2 separate regions of the Homo sapiens genome follow, and region 2 is linked to region 1. The links come from fine-mapping of genetic effects on gene expression. Tissue or cell type: whole blood. Region 1 holds a variant in brackets; the other region holds the start of a gene. All regions are shown on one strand. Distances are between the middles of the regions.

Region 1 (8,181 bases):
AGGATTGGCATCTGCCCCTGTAGGAAGCATCCACAGCTTCTCTAGACAGTCTAGGGGGCTCCCTCTCTGTGCTCCCATGTACTTGGTCCATAGCTCTAGTCATCAATTCTTAGGTAGCTGCATGTGTTTACCTGTCTGTTCCTTTCAGGAGACTATAAAAGCTATGACTGCAGGACCTTGGGGTATCTGTACATCTTCAGCTCCCAGCATTCATCTGGCCTATAGGAGGCACTCAAAAAATATACTTGGAATGCATTTATTAACATTCTTTATTATATCACTGCAATAATTTGTACTAAAGCAATAGCCATATACTTGTGAAAAAATGGAGTCCATTCCAAAGAGACATAATTTCCTCCTGGGGAGCAGGTTAAGAGCTAAGAAAGCATAAGTCATAAGATGAAAGGTGGTCCACAGTGGTGAACTCACTGAAAATAGAAAATTATGCTCCTTTTAAAAGTATGGTTCTTTAATGCTAAAGAATCCTTAATGGCATCAGATAAGATTATAAACTAAAATGTCCATTAAAGAAGAATTAAAATACTAACAGGAGAAACAGAAAATATACAATATTGTCCTTTATCCAGCATATCTGGGAAAGAGATATGCTTAATTTTTCAGATTTCTGAGTGATTGCCTCTTTAAGCAACAAAGCTTTAAATATTTTTGTTGTATTAACTGGTAATACTAGTGAATGCATAGCATAATCTGACATTTTCTTCAAGATTCAAAATCATAATTAGGAATACTAATTTCTGTGTGCTAATTAGTTTTTCACCATCTTTTTTAACCTTCATTAATTTTCTGATTAGTTTTTTTTTCTGGTTGCAAGAAAATTCCTTCCCCAGGATGTGTTGTTTGTGTGTTTGTTTTTACCCACCGACATTGTGCATCCACACCAACATTTCTTTTATGTTCTTCTAAAGAGCCCTTCTAAAAGTAAACATAAGCTATTAATTTTGTTCCTTTTACATCTTTTTTTAAAATTTAAACTGGGGGTGGGATGAGGACTACTGCTTGTTTTATTATTATACAAAATAGATAAGTTAGTATTACTATGAAGCAGTTGACTAAATTTTATTACCCCAAAATGTACATTTCTACCCAGGTATAAATTATGAGTATTAAATACCAAACAAACATACTGGCCCCTCTTAATGCTTTTCATAATTTTTGACATGGATATATCCACACATACTAACATTTATCTAAAATTTAGTAGCCCAGGCAGTTTATTTTCCTAATGTTTAAATTCCACTAAAATACATACCCTTTTAAAAAAATAATTTATTGTGCCAAAATTCACAGAATATAAAATTAACTATTTTAAAGTAAAAATGTTAGTGGAATTTAGTACAGTCACGATGTTGTGCAACCACCACATCTATCTAGTTTCAAAATATAAATACTTTCTTACTATTAAAAAAAGTTAAGCATTTTATTTTCAGAAATGGGATTGGAATTCACTTTTATTTTATTCTCTAAATTTTCTGTCATGAACATGTATTACTTTTAGGATCTTGTTTTAAAAGCTGCAATTTTAAAAGGATGCAGAAATGTGTCAACCCTGAACGTCCTCCCTGACTCAGGCAGCCAACATGGATTCCTTCCTCCTCTTCCTTCCACCTTCTTAGAATGTGCATATCTCCATTTTAGGACTTAACATATTAATATTGTGTCTACTTTCTTTTCTGCCTCCCTTTGAGGGCAAGGTCTGTAACTTTTCATGTATGCATCCTGAGTTCTTAGTCCTGTAGTGATTGTCCAATAAAGATATTTGTGAAAAAGAAAGAAAAATAAAAAAAGAAATTTCCTTAGGATAGATATTGCCAGGCATTTATCTCAATACTTAAATTATTGGGCTCCATTTGGAAACCCATCTAGTCCTTTCCTAAAAGTCTTAAATAACACCCATTTCTTATATAAAAGTACATTTTGAGAGAAGAGTGATCGAACAAGCAGACAAAGGCAGCTTAAAGGGACTAAAGTCAAACAAGGCATAAAATTCACATTGGGCACAGAGACCAAGAGTGAAGATGAAAGCAACCAGAGTAGAAGGTCATAGTTATATAAAAGATGGGGATTTTTATTGATAAATTTTAAAATAATGTGATACTGCCAAAATACAGGGTGCTTTGCAAAGCACATGGGCAGTACCAAGGCCTTTGCCTTGAGGGCATAGGAAAGGCCTCCTCAAGGGGGAGGATGAAAAGTGGTGTAATAAAGAAAGGCAGAGGGAACACCACGTGATAATTATGGCCGAAGGAGGCCAGTGAGCAGATACTCCAGCTAGAACACATAAGCTTCCATATTAATCATGTTTATAAATTTCTATATTTTATAATGCTTTGACTTCTTAAAAAGCTTGCCAGCCAGCGAGAGACTGCCCTCCCAGGACTATAGCCACTTCTTAGAGATAGCATTGGGCTCAGCTGCCACTGCGAGCATACCTTTCATAAGCAAACCAACCAATCCCAAGTTGGTAGCCCCAACCACCTCCTTATCTAACTCACACACACTTCACCTGTCCTAAATCACCCAGGGTCAGGTACCAGACAACTGGAGATCATCCTTATAGCCCACAGCCTGTGGACATTATTCAAACTAGCCAATCCTAAGCTCTTTCCCAAGGATATCCCAACAAAGGCTGTGGCCTAGACTCTGGCCTTGCTCCGATTCTGCCTCCTGACCAACCTGATGCTCCCCCTGTGGCCCTGCATGGCAAGGCATGCCCCCTTCTCTTAGGAAGTGTAAGTAATTTATTCTACCAGCGGTATTAACCTCGTCATATCATCACTCAGACATCTCTATAAGTTAAAATCCCATGGGTGCAAATTATTGAACAGCCTTTAACATCTCATGAAACTTCTTGATCCTCTTCTTTTATGAGTACTTAAAGTGCAGTTGGTCCTCTATATCCATGGATTCTGCATCCATGGATTCTGCATCCATGGATTCAACCAACCACAGATTGAAAATACTCAGAAAAAAAAAATGAATGGGTGCATCTGTATTGAACACATCAGACTTTTTTATTATCCTTATTCCCTAATCAAGACCATATAACAACTATTTACATAGCATTAACATTGTATTAGGTATTATAAGTAACAAGAGATGATTTAAAGTATACCAGAGGATGTGCGTAGCTTATATGCAAATACTGCACCATTTTTATATCAGAGACTTGAGCATCGTGGATTTTGGTATCCACCAAGGAGTTCTGGAACCCATCCCCCGTGGATACCAAGGGATGACTGTATTTAAATGTTCCATTATCTCTAATCTTGCAGTTCCTGTCATTTTTATTCTTTAAAGCCTTCTGGTGCGTCAAAAAGCTGGTGAAAAAATATGATCGTCCTGCAGTGAAAACCTTAGTAACTTCTATGGCCTGTGAATCTTGCATGATCCTGTATGTTCTTGAGCATTTGGCAGATACAACTTTTCCATGCTGTTATCCAGAAGAATCAAACTATTTTTAGTCAGGGTTTTCTGTAAAAGCAAAACCAAGACTGCTTATCATATGCAACATGGCCAACACAGGACCTATGTGCCCTCATTTCCTGCTCATTTTCTTTGAAAGAAATGATCCCACGGGTTTCCCAATCATAAGGCCCCATGAAGGTACTCTAAGTCCTCCCTCCCCTCCAAAACACACCAGCAAATGGCATTTGCTGCTTGCCTGGAAAAGACAGGAGCTAGATGACACTAGCACGCCACAGTCACCTGGCAGCTTAGCACATTGAGCCTGAGACACTTGCCTACGACAAGGGGGTACACATGGCTGCCAGGGCCTAAAATACATCATTAGTGGCTCCTGGCCACAGTACTACCTTGCTTGTTTAAATCAGCACTCATGAGTATGTTCACATATCTTTCTAAGGAGATGCTACTTTGATGAGTCACCCCACAGTTATTTTGCTGAGTATAGAGAAAGAGCTTTCTTTTTCAGGGTTTCTCTGCCTGGACTGTTACCATTTACCTTTCACCTCCTAAGCTGCAAGTCCAAATCTAAAGATGTGGCTTACTACCAGAAATCATACATACAATAAAATAATAGACAGGAAAGAAACAAATAATTCGATACACAGAAAACATAAATAGAGCAGAGCATCCAAACCGGGAGAAAGAATTAAATGTGGCCATAAGACTTTTCCTGGGTTTTAGATTTGACTCTGACTTTCCTGGCCATCAAAGCAAAAAGCTATATAATCATCATTATCAGAAACACAGAAACATTCTACTTTCTTCCTGGAAAACAAAGTTTTTCCTAACTATGTTCTGGAGCTGTGGTTTTCACAGTGCAGTTCCTGGACCAACAGCTTCAGTATCATCTGGGAAATTGTTAAAAAATGCTCATTCTCAGGCCGCACTCCAGACCTACTGAATCGGAGACTGTGGACTGGGGCCTAAAGACCTGGGTTTTAGGGAGCCTTTGTGGTGATGCT[G/A]TTGTAGGCTGGGTTTGAGAACCAATGATCCAAAGAAAGGGGTTTTATATAAAGGGCACTGAGCAACCATCCTATGGCAAGTATGGGGAATTCAAGCAGCAGCTTTCAATAAAACTGCAAACACAAAATTAAAGTGCTATTTAGCAAAGGCAGTATGCAAGAAGACTAAGAGCACAGGGCCCAGGCATGTAGCTTTTAGTGATCCCTCTTTGCTGCGTCAAAAACTGACCTGGACACATTCATACTATACTTGTTCCAAAACACCTAGCAAAGGAGCATATGCAATGGTTCTGGGTGTTCTTAGGCAGCTCAAGTTCAGAATCTATTCCTTCTGCTTCTCTCAACTAGTTCCTCTCCCCATTATCTGAGGTTCAAACCCTATAATCACCTCTGGTATCTCTCTCCATCATTCCCATATCAGTTGTCACACCCTAAAGAAATGACCTGTTTCACCGGGCGCAGTGGCTCACACCTGTAATCCCAACATTTTGGGAGGCCGAGGCAATGGATCATCTGAGGTCAGGAGTTCAAGACCAGCCTGGCCAACATGGTGAAACCCCATCTTTACTAAAAATACAAAAATTAGCCAGGTGTGGGGGTGGGTGCCTGTAATCCCAACTACTCAGGAGGCTGAGGCAGGAGAATCACTTGAGCCTTGGAGGCGGAGGTTGCAGTGAGCAGAGATCACGCCACTGCACTCCAGAGCAAGACAGAGTGAGACAAAGCAAGACAGTCTCAAAAAAAAAAGAAAAAGAAAAAGAAATGACCTCTTTTTCTCATTCAATAATTCATTCATCAAATATTTACTATGTACCTACTAGGTGGTGTAAACTTAGCAGGAAATGTAATGGACAAAAAAAAAAAAACATTCCTGTCTTCATGGAGCTTACTTTCTCATTGGGGAGACAATAAATAAGTAAGTAAAATCCATGGTAGGTGAGTGAGTGATGGGTGCTAAGGAGAACACTAAAGGCAGGATGGAGGTAAGAAGCCTTGAAGGAGAGGTCAGAGATTTTTAACAGGGTGGCTAAGGAAGGGCTCACTGATAAGGGGCCACGTGAGAAGTGCACTGAGGGAAGTGAGAGAACATTCCCAGCACAAGCGTGGCAAGTGTAAAAGTCCTGGGGTGAGACTCTCTGGCACGTTTGAGGACCAACAATGAGCCCAGTGGGGCTGAAGCAGAACACACAATAAACAAGTGGGACTGAAAGGAGATAAAGTCGAAGAGGTAACCAGGGGTTAAATCATAGGTCATAAAGGAGTGGACTTTTCTATGAATGAGCTGGGAGACCACAGAGCTTTGAGCAAAGGATTGGCATTTTAACATTTCTGGCTGCTGAAGGGAAGGCAGGTAGAAAGGGGGCAAGGGTCGATGCAGCAGGGCCAGTTTAGCAGGCTGCTGTCCTTTCCTTCTCTACTAGTCGAAACCTCTCCACTGGGCTCTGTCTGCAGCTGTCTACCTGTGCCCCTTCCTGACAATCTGCTCCTCCTCCTCCCTAATCTACCTCTTTGAGTGCTACCAAACACCGACTCAAACCTCCCCATTCCCCGTTAGAAAAGAAATCGAAGAACTCACACTAGAACTCACGCTCTCCACCATGTGCCCTGCTTGACCTTCCCAACCTCATCTCCCAGGCCTCTGCCACATATGTCCAACAGACCAACCACAAAACGCTTGTTCAGCACATTCAAATACATCTACACAGTCCCAGTTTTCTGGCCTTTGCTCTCTCTGCCTGAACATTCCTGACACCCGCCTCCACCTACTGAAATCCTCCCAGTCTTTCAAGGTTCATCTCAAATGCCACCTCCTCCATATAACTTTTCCTGATCCCTCAACTGGATGCTCCTTCTGCAGCCTTGAACCTCCACAGCTTTGCACCTGTTCTCTTCTTATGGCCTTTAATACATTTCCATCTGTATTTGTCCTGGCTCCCTCAGTGGACTCTAAGCTCTTGGAGGGTAAACCATGGCTCACTCAACTGTATAACTAAAGCATGGAGTACAGCACCCTCTATAGAGTGAACATTCAGTGAATTCAATGATGCCAACATTATCCTTCCATGAGCAAAATTCTCCAACTTTCAGTAGCCTCTTTAAATCAGTTTATCACCTCAGGGTAACTATTTTATTTAGTTAGGATTTTAAATATATTGCACTCTAACAGACAAAATCCTAGCAGAGAAATCTCTGTTACATTTTATGCTTAATAAATAATACTAAGCAATTAAGCTTCAAAGATTAAAAAGTGGACATAGAAAGTAAAATCATTCTTATGATTAACTGCCACCAAAAGTTTTTTAGATAGAAGGCTGCCCAGTTAAATTTGGAATGCTTTAAAATGCTGGACCTCAAACCTCAGGAAAATGGATTCACTTAAATATTTTAAGTGTTTATTTTTATTGGTAAGATTTTTGATGGAATCAATGCTAATTTCTTTGTGGAATGTAATGCAGATATACTGAGAATTCTACTTTCCCCTTTGCGGTGTCTTAAATCAGTGTTATTCCTGCATAATTTATAATAAGAGTATGAAAACACTGAGTCAGATTTTCTCAATGTCTGTCATTAAAATGTGGAGGTGGAGTATATTTTCTTCTATCATTCTCTACAATAGAACTTCCCAAAAGGGCGCCATTCTGTATGGCTCAAATAATTTTCTTTTTTTTTTTTTTCGTGAGACGCAGTCTTGCCTCTGTCACTCAGGCTTGAGTGCAGTGGCACAATCTTGGCTCACTGCAACCTCCACCTCCCGGTTCAAGCGATTCTCCTGTCTCAGCCTCCAAAGTAGCTGGGATTACAGGTGCTCACCACAACGCCCATCTAATTTTTTTATTTTAAGTAGAGACTCGGTTTTGCCATGTTGGCCAGGTTGGTCTCGAACTCCTGACCTCAGGTAATCCGCCCACCTTGGCCTCCTAAAGTTCTGGGATTACAGGCATAAGCCACTGCACCTGGCCAATAGTTTTCTGTTTAAGGAAGTATAAGTTACCAACTTCTACCTCCTCTTTGAAGGTACTAATATTGGTATCCAAATTTCAAATATAAAGTAAAGACCAAAAAGCCAAGCGTGGTGGCTCACACCTGTAATCCCAGCACGTTGGGAGGCTGAGGCAGGCAGATCCCTTGGGTCCAGGAGTTCTAGATCAGCCTGTGAAACATGGTAAAACCCCATCTGTACAAAAGATGCAAAAATTACCTAGGTGTGGTGGCACAGGCCTGTAGCCCCAGCTACTGGGGAGCTGAGCCAGGAAGGATCACTTGAGCCTGGGAGGTTGAGGCTGCAGCGAGCCAAGATCACACCACTGCACTCCAGCCTGGGTGACAGAGAGAGACTCTGTCTCAATAAACTAAAATAGAATAAAAATTTTAAAAATTAAGACCAAAAGAAGCCCTACTCCAGAAAATAGAAGGGAAAAAAGGATCTGGGACTCAAACTCAGATTTAACTCAAAATGGACTTTTCTATGAATCATTTTTTAAGGCAAGACCTCAATAATAAATCTCAGCTTTGTTAAAAAGTAACCTCAATAATAAATCTCAGCTTTGTTAAAAAAAAAAAAGTGATGTCAATAGCAGAATGATTCCTGGAGATTTAATTTGTCCTTTGGAAAATTATATTAAATATGAGTCACTTTCTTCAGGTGATATGTATTAGATACACTAAAGGAAATCAATGTATACAAGATAAAAATGAATTAATTTTAAATATTCTAATTGAACATCATTTTATA
Region 2 (8,181 bases), 86 kb after region 1:
TCTTATATTGGATATCATTTACACCGTCCTTTGAAAATCTTACTATTCCCAAATCAAGAATCCTATCAGCACATTGCTAATAAATTGCTAAATATAGCTAGTATTTGCTTATTTATCATTTTAATTTTTTTAAGAGATGGGGTCTCACTATGTTTCCCAGGCTGGTCTCAAGTCCCTGGGTTCAAGCAATCCTCCTGCCTCAGCCTCCCGAGTAGCTGGGACTACAGGCACACACCACCACACCCAGCTTCCATTTCAGTTTTTTCAGTAAAGTAAAATCCTTTAGCTTGTTTAGGTTGCACTCCAGTACAGAAATAGAAAAACAAAAATCTCATCTGGTATGACAGCCATTGATCCTTCTTATGGGTTCAAATCCATCCCTTAGAAGTTCAGTTTTTAAGAACCAGCTACTACAGGGAGGTGCTAACAACCTCAAATTTCTAGGATGTAAATTTTCATACCCTCTGCAACTGCTGCCTGGCCTCAGATGAGCCCCCTGTACTTAACTCAAGCACCCCTGTCCACTGATGCTGACTTATGCAAGTCAACACACCAAATCCCACAGCCACGGCTTTTCAGAAAAATAGGAATGGATTCTTCTCCCAAGTTCATACAATTGAGGGTTTTTGACAGCAATAAAAATAGCTTTGGATAAACCTTATAACCTGTGGTGTTGCTTCTTCATAAAGGTAAGCCAGTCATTTGACATTATTCAAATTTTTGTTGTTGTTTTTAGATAGTGGTGCAGGTGACGTATAAGAAAAACAGGTATGAATCCCAGCACTTTGGGAGACCAAGGAGGGTGGATCACCTGAGGTCAAGAGTTCAAGACCAGCCTGACAAACATGGTGAAACCCCATCTCTACAAAAATTAGCCAGGCATGATGGGTACCTGTGATCCCAGCTACTCGGGGGCTGAGGCAGAAGAATCACTTGAACCCAGGAGGCGGAGGTTGCAGTGAGCTGAGATCATGCCATTGCACTCCAGCCTGGGTGACAGAGCAAGACTCCATCTTAAAAAGAAAAAAAAAAAAAAGAAAAGAAACACAGGTATGAAGGCAATAAAGCATGATGTATGTAGTCTGGCCACGCCACCATCCCTGCTGCTCTGGACAGAAATCAGAAGCAGCAGCAGATAGAAGCAGAAAATCATCAAAACTTTACACATGAGGTACTGCTATTCCTTCCTCAACAAGTGTATTAGAATATAAACTTGACAAATTGGAGCTTTTCCATAGGTAGGTAGCAACAGAGAGAAGCATCACCCCACAGTTTAAAGTTTATGTTACTTGGGAAAAGACAAACATGAAGTATGAGTCTGAAAATTAGTTTCAAGAACTCTCAACTAATTGATTCTCTCCCAAACTGAAAACACACTACAGCAAGGCTAAAACGTAAAATAAAGTGAACTTTAATCTATAATATACATGAAAATGTGAAAGAACATGTTTCCTTTTGATTTTTGTAAGGAAAGTAAGTTTCAGTGTGAGTGAAACATATCTGAGAGAACAGGAAAGTCTTACCTAGGTACAAGGAGGAGTTTTCTTTCTTGACATTGTCATCTAAGTAGGTTGGTCCCAGGGTATAAATAGGTGTGGAGCCCATTCCAATGAGAATCTGCGCGCAAATGAATAAAGCCACGTAGACCCAGTGATTATTTCCTCCCGAGTCCTTCGGACAGGCCGGAGGCTCCAAAGTGGCGGTGGAGTTGCCACCCTGACACAGGCCGTCGTTGGGGGCCGAGGCGTTCAACTCTTGGATCTGGTAGGGGGGCGAGATGAAGTGAGGTAAGGCGAAGAGGGCTGCCCCGAAGGCGATGAGGAGTCCACCCACGGCCAGCCACAGGGGCCGCCGACCCCGGCCGCCGAAGTAGCTGACGAACACCACCACCACCAGGTTCCCGATGTCAAAGCAGCTGACCAGCAGCCCCGACTCGGAACTCTTCAGACTGTAGCGCCTTTCAATGGTGGTAATTACGCTGCTCAGGTACCCAGAGACCATTAACGCCTGGATGAAGGTCAGAAAGCACATGCACACCAGGAAGCAACGGGAATCCGTGAGGACCACGTAGAGGCACCTTCTCTCCTGGAGCATGGCCAAGGCGGAGGACACCGAGAAGGTTTTGCTGAGGTCCACCCTGTGGTTACAGTCCCCGAGCCCCGCCGAAGTGGACGGGGCAGAGGGACTGGGGGCCAACGGGTTCGGGCCTTGCTTCAACTCCTGGTGGCCCGAAGAATCCACACAGCCAAAGGCCGGGTTGGCGTCTCCACTAGTGGGACTGAGGCTTGGCCGGCAGGAGGCGCTGCTGAGGACCGGTAAACTCTTAGACCTGAGGGTCTCCGGCTCGCACCTCTCTTGGACAGCTTCTGCAGTGGCCGGCGCCTCCAGCTGCTCTCCCGCCCCGGGCTGCAGTCCAGTGCCTTCGTCCATGGCGCTTAGAATTCAGATTTGATAGCTGATGGCACCCAAGCACTCCGGCACGTTTCATCCACCGGCACGAGGGGCCGAAGCCGGGCCCAGTCAGTCTTGCCCACCTGGGACTGGGGCTGGGGGCGCAGGGCCGCGCAGCAGGGCATCCTCACCAGCTGCGAGGCGCCCAGTGCATCCTGATCACAGACACGGCTTCAAGGCTCCGCAGCCGCGTGCCACAGGGGGCAGGGGTCCGCGCGGTACTGCGATGAGCCCTACTCGGCGTCCCTCTCCGGGCGGTAGCTTGAGGCAGGCGCCTCGCGCGTCCCGGGCTCATCCCCTCCGCCGCCGCCGCCGCCGCCGCCGCTGGGCCCGCGGCCAGGAGCGAGTGCACCCTGCGCCGGGGGTGGGGGGGCACTTAGCGCTGCTGTCCGTACAGCATCCCACCTCGCTGCGCCAGGGGTACCGGGTGTTCGCCGCCTGGGCTCGCGGCACCCTCGGGAGTGAAGCTGCCGACCTGCAAAGCAGAAAGAGGGCGGTCAGCGAAGAGCGGCTGCGGCTTGGGGCTAGCGTCCCAGCGCCCCGGGGACCAGGGTTAGGTGACCCCGAACCGTCCCTAGAGGGACGGAGGAGCTAGTCAGGAGCGGAGCCCCGGAGGACTAGGCAGCAGCCGGCTGCAGTCTCCAGTCCCGGAACAATAAGCAGCAGGCGGTCGGCGGAGACTCTCCCTCATTGTCTGCCGCGGACCTGCCCCCGTCCCGCCCCTTCTGCCTTAAACATTGCGTTTGCTTTTATATGTTAATAATTATCAACCTGGCAGCTCTGACTCAGAGGCAGTGTCTTTTAATCGAGTGAACTAACTGCAGCCTTTCCGTACTCCTACTCCATTACTCAAAATAGAAAATGCCCAAAAGAACAAAGGAAACTTTTTCACAGACACACAATGTATTCCCTGTCCCAATTTTTCTAAAAGGAAAAAAGAAGGTGGGGGTAAACTACGTGTGTAGAAATGTGTGTGCACACTGGTGTGCGTTGGCACGTGTGCGCGACTAGATTTGAATCTGTCTGCTCCACCAGAGACACACATTCAAAGCCGAAGGCAGCAGCAAAAAGGTCAACATGCTTGCCTCTTTATTCCCAACACCAAAAATAACCCCCTGACCGAAAGAACTCTTCAATTACAAATACCAGGGGCATTCGAGGCTGTGGCCCGCACTAAGTCCCAGAGCGCGGTATCAAACGAAACCGAAAATCCGTCTGCTTTGCCGAGAGCTAGGGAAGCCACAACCAAACAAAGAGATCCCGGCACGCTGTCAGAGAGCGCGCGAGGAGCCCACGGAGCCGGCTGGGCGCACGCGGGCCGGCGGGGAGGTGTGCTATTGACTGAGCGCACCCCGCTAGCGTGGGCCTGGGGAGCGTGTGCGCGTGCGCGGCCACACACACACACACACACACACACACACACACACACACACACCGGCGTACTGGAACCTCTCTCGCGATCCCGCACCCAGCTTGAATTCAGCAAGAATCGAAAACAGGTGTGCCCCCGTGGTAAGACCCCGCCCCTAATCTTGGGGACCCCCACTCCACTCCTCCAGCCTGGGGCAAGGACGGGGGGCGGAATATGCACCAGGTGGGAGACAGCCGAGCTTCACTACACTGGGTTTCATTTTGCAGCGCGCCTTTGTGATGCTGCTGAGAAAAGAAAGGAGGAAGGGCAAGGGAGAAAGGCAGAGAGGCTGGGCGGCCAAGGGTGGCCGCTCCGGCATCTCCCTCGGCTGTGCTGGGCCAAACCCGCTCCCAGATTCCCGGCCTGCCAGCCACTCACAATCCCGGGCTTCCCCGCCGCTGCCTTACCCAGGCGCCTTCCCGGGGAACCCCACCAGCCGCTGCGTGAGGAGCCGGGGAATCCCAGCAAACTCTCGCCGCTCGCGGGGGGCGTCCGAACCCCCTGCTTAGGCGAGCGCCCTCACAGCATCGCAGACTCGGATGGACACGCGGATCCCGGCAGGGAGCTCTTGGAGCAGGCGTGGAATCCCAGGGACACCCCCTGCGCGCACATCACATACACGCACATCCTACACACACACACACACACACACACACACACACACACACACACACAGAGCCCGTGGGAAGACAAGACCGCCGGCGACAGCCCGCCGCGCTGCCCGGGCGCTCAAGCCGCCGCTACTCACTAGCGAGTCTGTCAGTCTGTCTGCCTGGCTGAGTAGAGCGGCGGGAGGGGGGCACTGAGCTACGGGAATAGTTGGGAGCCGCGTGAGGAGGCAGCCTCCGTCCAGCCGAAGAGAAATCAGTGAATGAGACTGTGACTCAGGCTGAACTCTTCCCCCCACCCCTCGCCTGTCACCCAAGCCTCTCCTCCGCTCCAAACAGACACACGCGCACAGAGACGCGCCCGGAGAGGAGCAGCCGAGGGCGCAGGCGCGAGGGCAGCCACCCAGCCCAGCCCTCCCACAGCCAGCCACCCCGCTGCCCTTCACCTGCGTGGCTGCGGGGGCCCAAGAGCGCTGAAGCCCCGAGGGAGCCGGTCTCTAGAAAAGTCAGCGGCTGAAGCTGACAGCCCACTCTGAATAAATAAATCATTTCTGATCGTTTATTCCGTGCCTTGGGCACACACCATGTCTCATTCACCATAGTAGATTCTGGGACCAAAGATAAACAAGACAAGATACTTGGTCGGAGGAAACCTCTGGCTTGTGGGGGAAATACTCATGTAAATGGCTTAAAACAACGTGGTACATCTATGCAGCCTGCTACTGGAGTAGCCAATATCCATTAGCCTTCATTTCCACGCAGCAGGAAGAACAGAGGCACGGGGGCATGGTGCTGCCAGTCAATAGGTAGATAAGCTTCCTAGAAGATTGCAGGGATGGGGCAGAGGACCAGACTGCAAGAGTGGCTGAGTAGAAAGGGGCACTACGGGTTTCCTAAGTTGTGTACTGTCAATAATGTGGGGGCAATGACGTTCTGACTTCCTCACCAGAGAGCTGGCTCTGGCAGTGACAGGTAGACAGATGTGAGGCCACACTGCGGGCACAGAAGTGAGTTGGGAGGCAGTCTGAAAGCAAAATGTGATGAGGCATTGGCAGGGGGCATGGAGAGGAGGGAACTGGGCAGCTGATGCAATCTGCAAGAGAAGAAAACCAGCCGAGGTAGGATGACTCCCAAGTTTCTAGCACCAAGTTGGGTGACTACGTGCCTGACAGCCAATAAAAGCACAGGTGGAGAAACATGCTTTAGGAGAAAGATTGTTCTCATCTACATGTGTTGAGTTTGAAATGTTTGGGGGACATCCCAGTGTACGTGTCCCATAAGCCACTGGACACACAGGAGGTTTGGACTAGGAATATTGATCAGTAGTCATCAGCCCAAAGGTGGCATGAGAAAGGATGGAATGAATAGGGAAGATCATCCAAATTGTGAAGAATCTAGGAGGACAGCGTACAGCCAAAGGAAGGAGACTGGAAGCAAGGGTCAGAGAGGTGTGGGACGCATCAGAAAAGCCAAAAGAGCAGACGACTGTAAGAAGGGAAGGGTCAGATGTGTACAGGCTGCAGGGAAGACAAACAGGATGATAACTGAAAAAAAAAAAAAAAAAGAGTATCTGAGGGCACTTGTGACCATTGACAGAGCAGGATAGTGCTCTAATGGAGGAAAGGAGGTTGCTCACAAGTACCAGTGACCATGCTGGCCATTGCTGCCAGGTCGAAGCCCCTCCACTGGCCCTTGGCCTTGCCCAATGAAAGCATTGTCTCCATTTTACAGATGTGATAAGTGTAGAGAGGTTAAGTAACTTTATATAGGCACACAGCTGCTCTGTAGACAATATGAACCAATGTGCTCCAAAAGACTATGTTCTTACTTAACCTCTTAACCCTGACTCTCTACCCTCTCTCCTGCCATTGAATAACATCCTGACTCGTCAATGCACCTTGATTCTTTTGATTATCTCCCTTTAGTCCAACAACCGTCGTATCTACAGCGATCCTTAGAGAACAATTAAGGCCAGTTGACAGTAAAGAACAATCAGTGTGTATTTGAAGTCCATGCTGAGAGAGCATCAATCTTCTGGCAGCTGCAAGACTGACCTATCAACCGAGGCATTTCTTCATTCCCTGCCATTGTCTCCTCCTCTTGAGATCGCCATCAGGCACAGTCACTTTTCTACAAACAGGCAATAGGACTCCCGCTGCCACCCTGCCCAGATTTTAGTCCTCTACTGCTGATAAAGTGAGCAAAGATACGTGGCACTTCCTGAACCCAAATACTCTTCTGAGCTGATTCTAAATCCACACAGAATCAACCTACCTCCTATTACCTCCTTCCAAGCTCTGTGTCCCATTCTCTCATTTCAGTCTCAGCTCCAGACATCAGTGAATTCAATGTGATACATCAGGGGACATCACAGGACTTCCCTACTTGAAAATCAAGCAATCGTGTCCCTGAAACACTCTGTCTTTATTCATGCTCAGTTACCGTAAAGTAGATGCAACTCTAAGAACCTATGGATTTTTTTATTGCCACTAATAGATCATGATTTACAGCAAAATTTTAAAAGGTCCAATTTTACTCACATAAGAAGAAGAAAACATTCAGCAAGAAGCATTTCTTTTGCTTTATCTTTCCCAGTTAAATATGACTTTAAAAAAGACAAAATTTTAAAAGGTCCAATTTTACTCACAAAAGAAGAAGAAAACATTCAGCAAGAAGCATTTCTTTTGCTTTATCTTTCCCAGTTAAATATGACTTTAAAAAAGACAAAATTTTAAAAGGTCCAATTTTACTCACATAGGAAACAAGAAGAAAACATTCAGCAAGAAGCATTTCTTTTGCTTTATCTTTCCCAGTTAAATATGACTTTGAAAAAGAAGAGCACACCTCATTAGCCGTAATTGTCTGATTAATACAAAGAAATGGACTCATATCACGGGGTTCTACTACCCCTATGGTAGTGTTTACTATCCTTATTTCACTCAATAATTACAGTTACTTTAACCAGAATGCCTGCCTTGTTTGGCATTTTGGGAGAGGAAGCATATGACTGTAAACCCTCTTCAAACTTTCAGACTTACGTTTGCTTCTTCTAAGTCCATCGACTTTATACATAAATGACTTCTTTTTAAAAATAAATAAATAAATAAATAAATAAATGATTTCTTTCCTGATCTTCATATAACAAGTATGTAGCCTTTGCAATTTCCAGGGCAGTCTACAGGTTTAAAATCTGGCCGTCCTGGAGAATGGGCAGAAGAAAGCTGAAGGGAGCCTTTTCCCACAGCCCTTCCCTTCCTTCTTAAAGAAGGTTCACTTCAGAGGTCTCCCAGATACAACAAGAACTGAGTTTTTGGTTCAGAATATTTTGTGGGTGCAAAACATAATACATAGTTGCCAGTAACATAATTGAATTAGGTGTTGGTTGTTTAAGAGGAGACACATTGTATCTTTAAGGTAGCCCCTTAATAGAACTTGGCATGTATATCCTTCCTTAGAAGTGAATTTCAGGTTGGGTAAAACCTGAGAAGGAACAGATCTGGCCCTGGGGTACAATGAATGCAGGCAATCACTCCAGCCCTGGTGGCTTGAGGGCCCTGCAAGTGCTAAAGGAGTATAGTGACCAACTGTGTCCAAAGAGACTTAGCACTGCAAGTCCCACACCCCCAAGAAACCACAGTTCCATGAACACCTGGAGGCTTGGCTCCCTATAAAGAAACTGCCACCTCCCTTAATATAATTAAGCCAGATTAG

Evidence for each region. PIP is the estimated chance that this variant, and not a neighbour inherited with it, causes the effect.
Region 2: it holds the start of SLCO5A1-AS1, and the variant in region 1 is fine-mapped to the expression of SLCO5A1-AS1 in whole blood (TOPMed, PIP above 0.99).

Annotation. Positions count from the first base shown.
Region 1 is chr8:69,744,439-69,752,619 of GRCh38, forward strand. All of the region lies in intron 4 of SLCO5A1 (solute carrier organic anion transporter family member 5A1), which reads right to left. Among named protein-coding and RNA genes, the nearest start is that of SLCO5A1-AS1, 86 kb to the right of the region's middle. The variant G/A (reference allele first, on the strand shown) is at 4,449.
Region 2 is chr8:69,830,244-69,838,424 of GRCh38, forward strand. SLCO5A1-AS1 (SLCO5A1 antisense RNA 1) reads left to right here and starts at 3,869. Exons shown (of 4, transcript NR_186568.1): 1 at 3,869-3,950. It overlaps SLCO5A1 (solute carrier organic anion transporter family member 5A1), which reads right to left and starts at 4,735. Exons shown (of 10, transcript NM_030958.3): 1 at 4,611-4,735; 2 at 1,524-2,926. The coding sequence starts at 2,430. RefSeq lists silencers at 2,711-2,800, 4,891-5,000 and enhancers at 2,991-3,060, 4,491-4,570.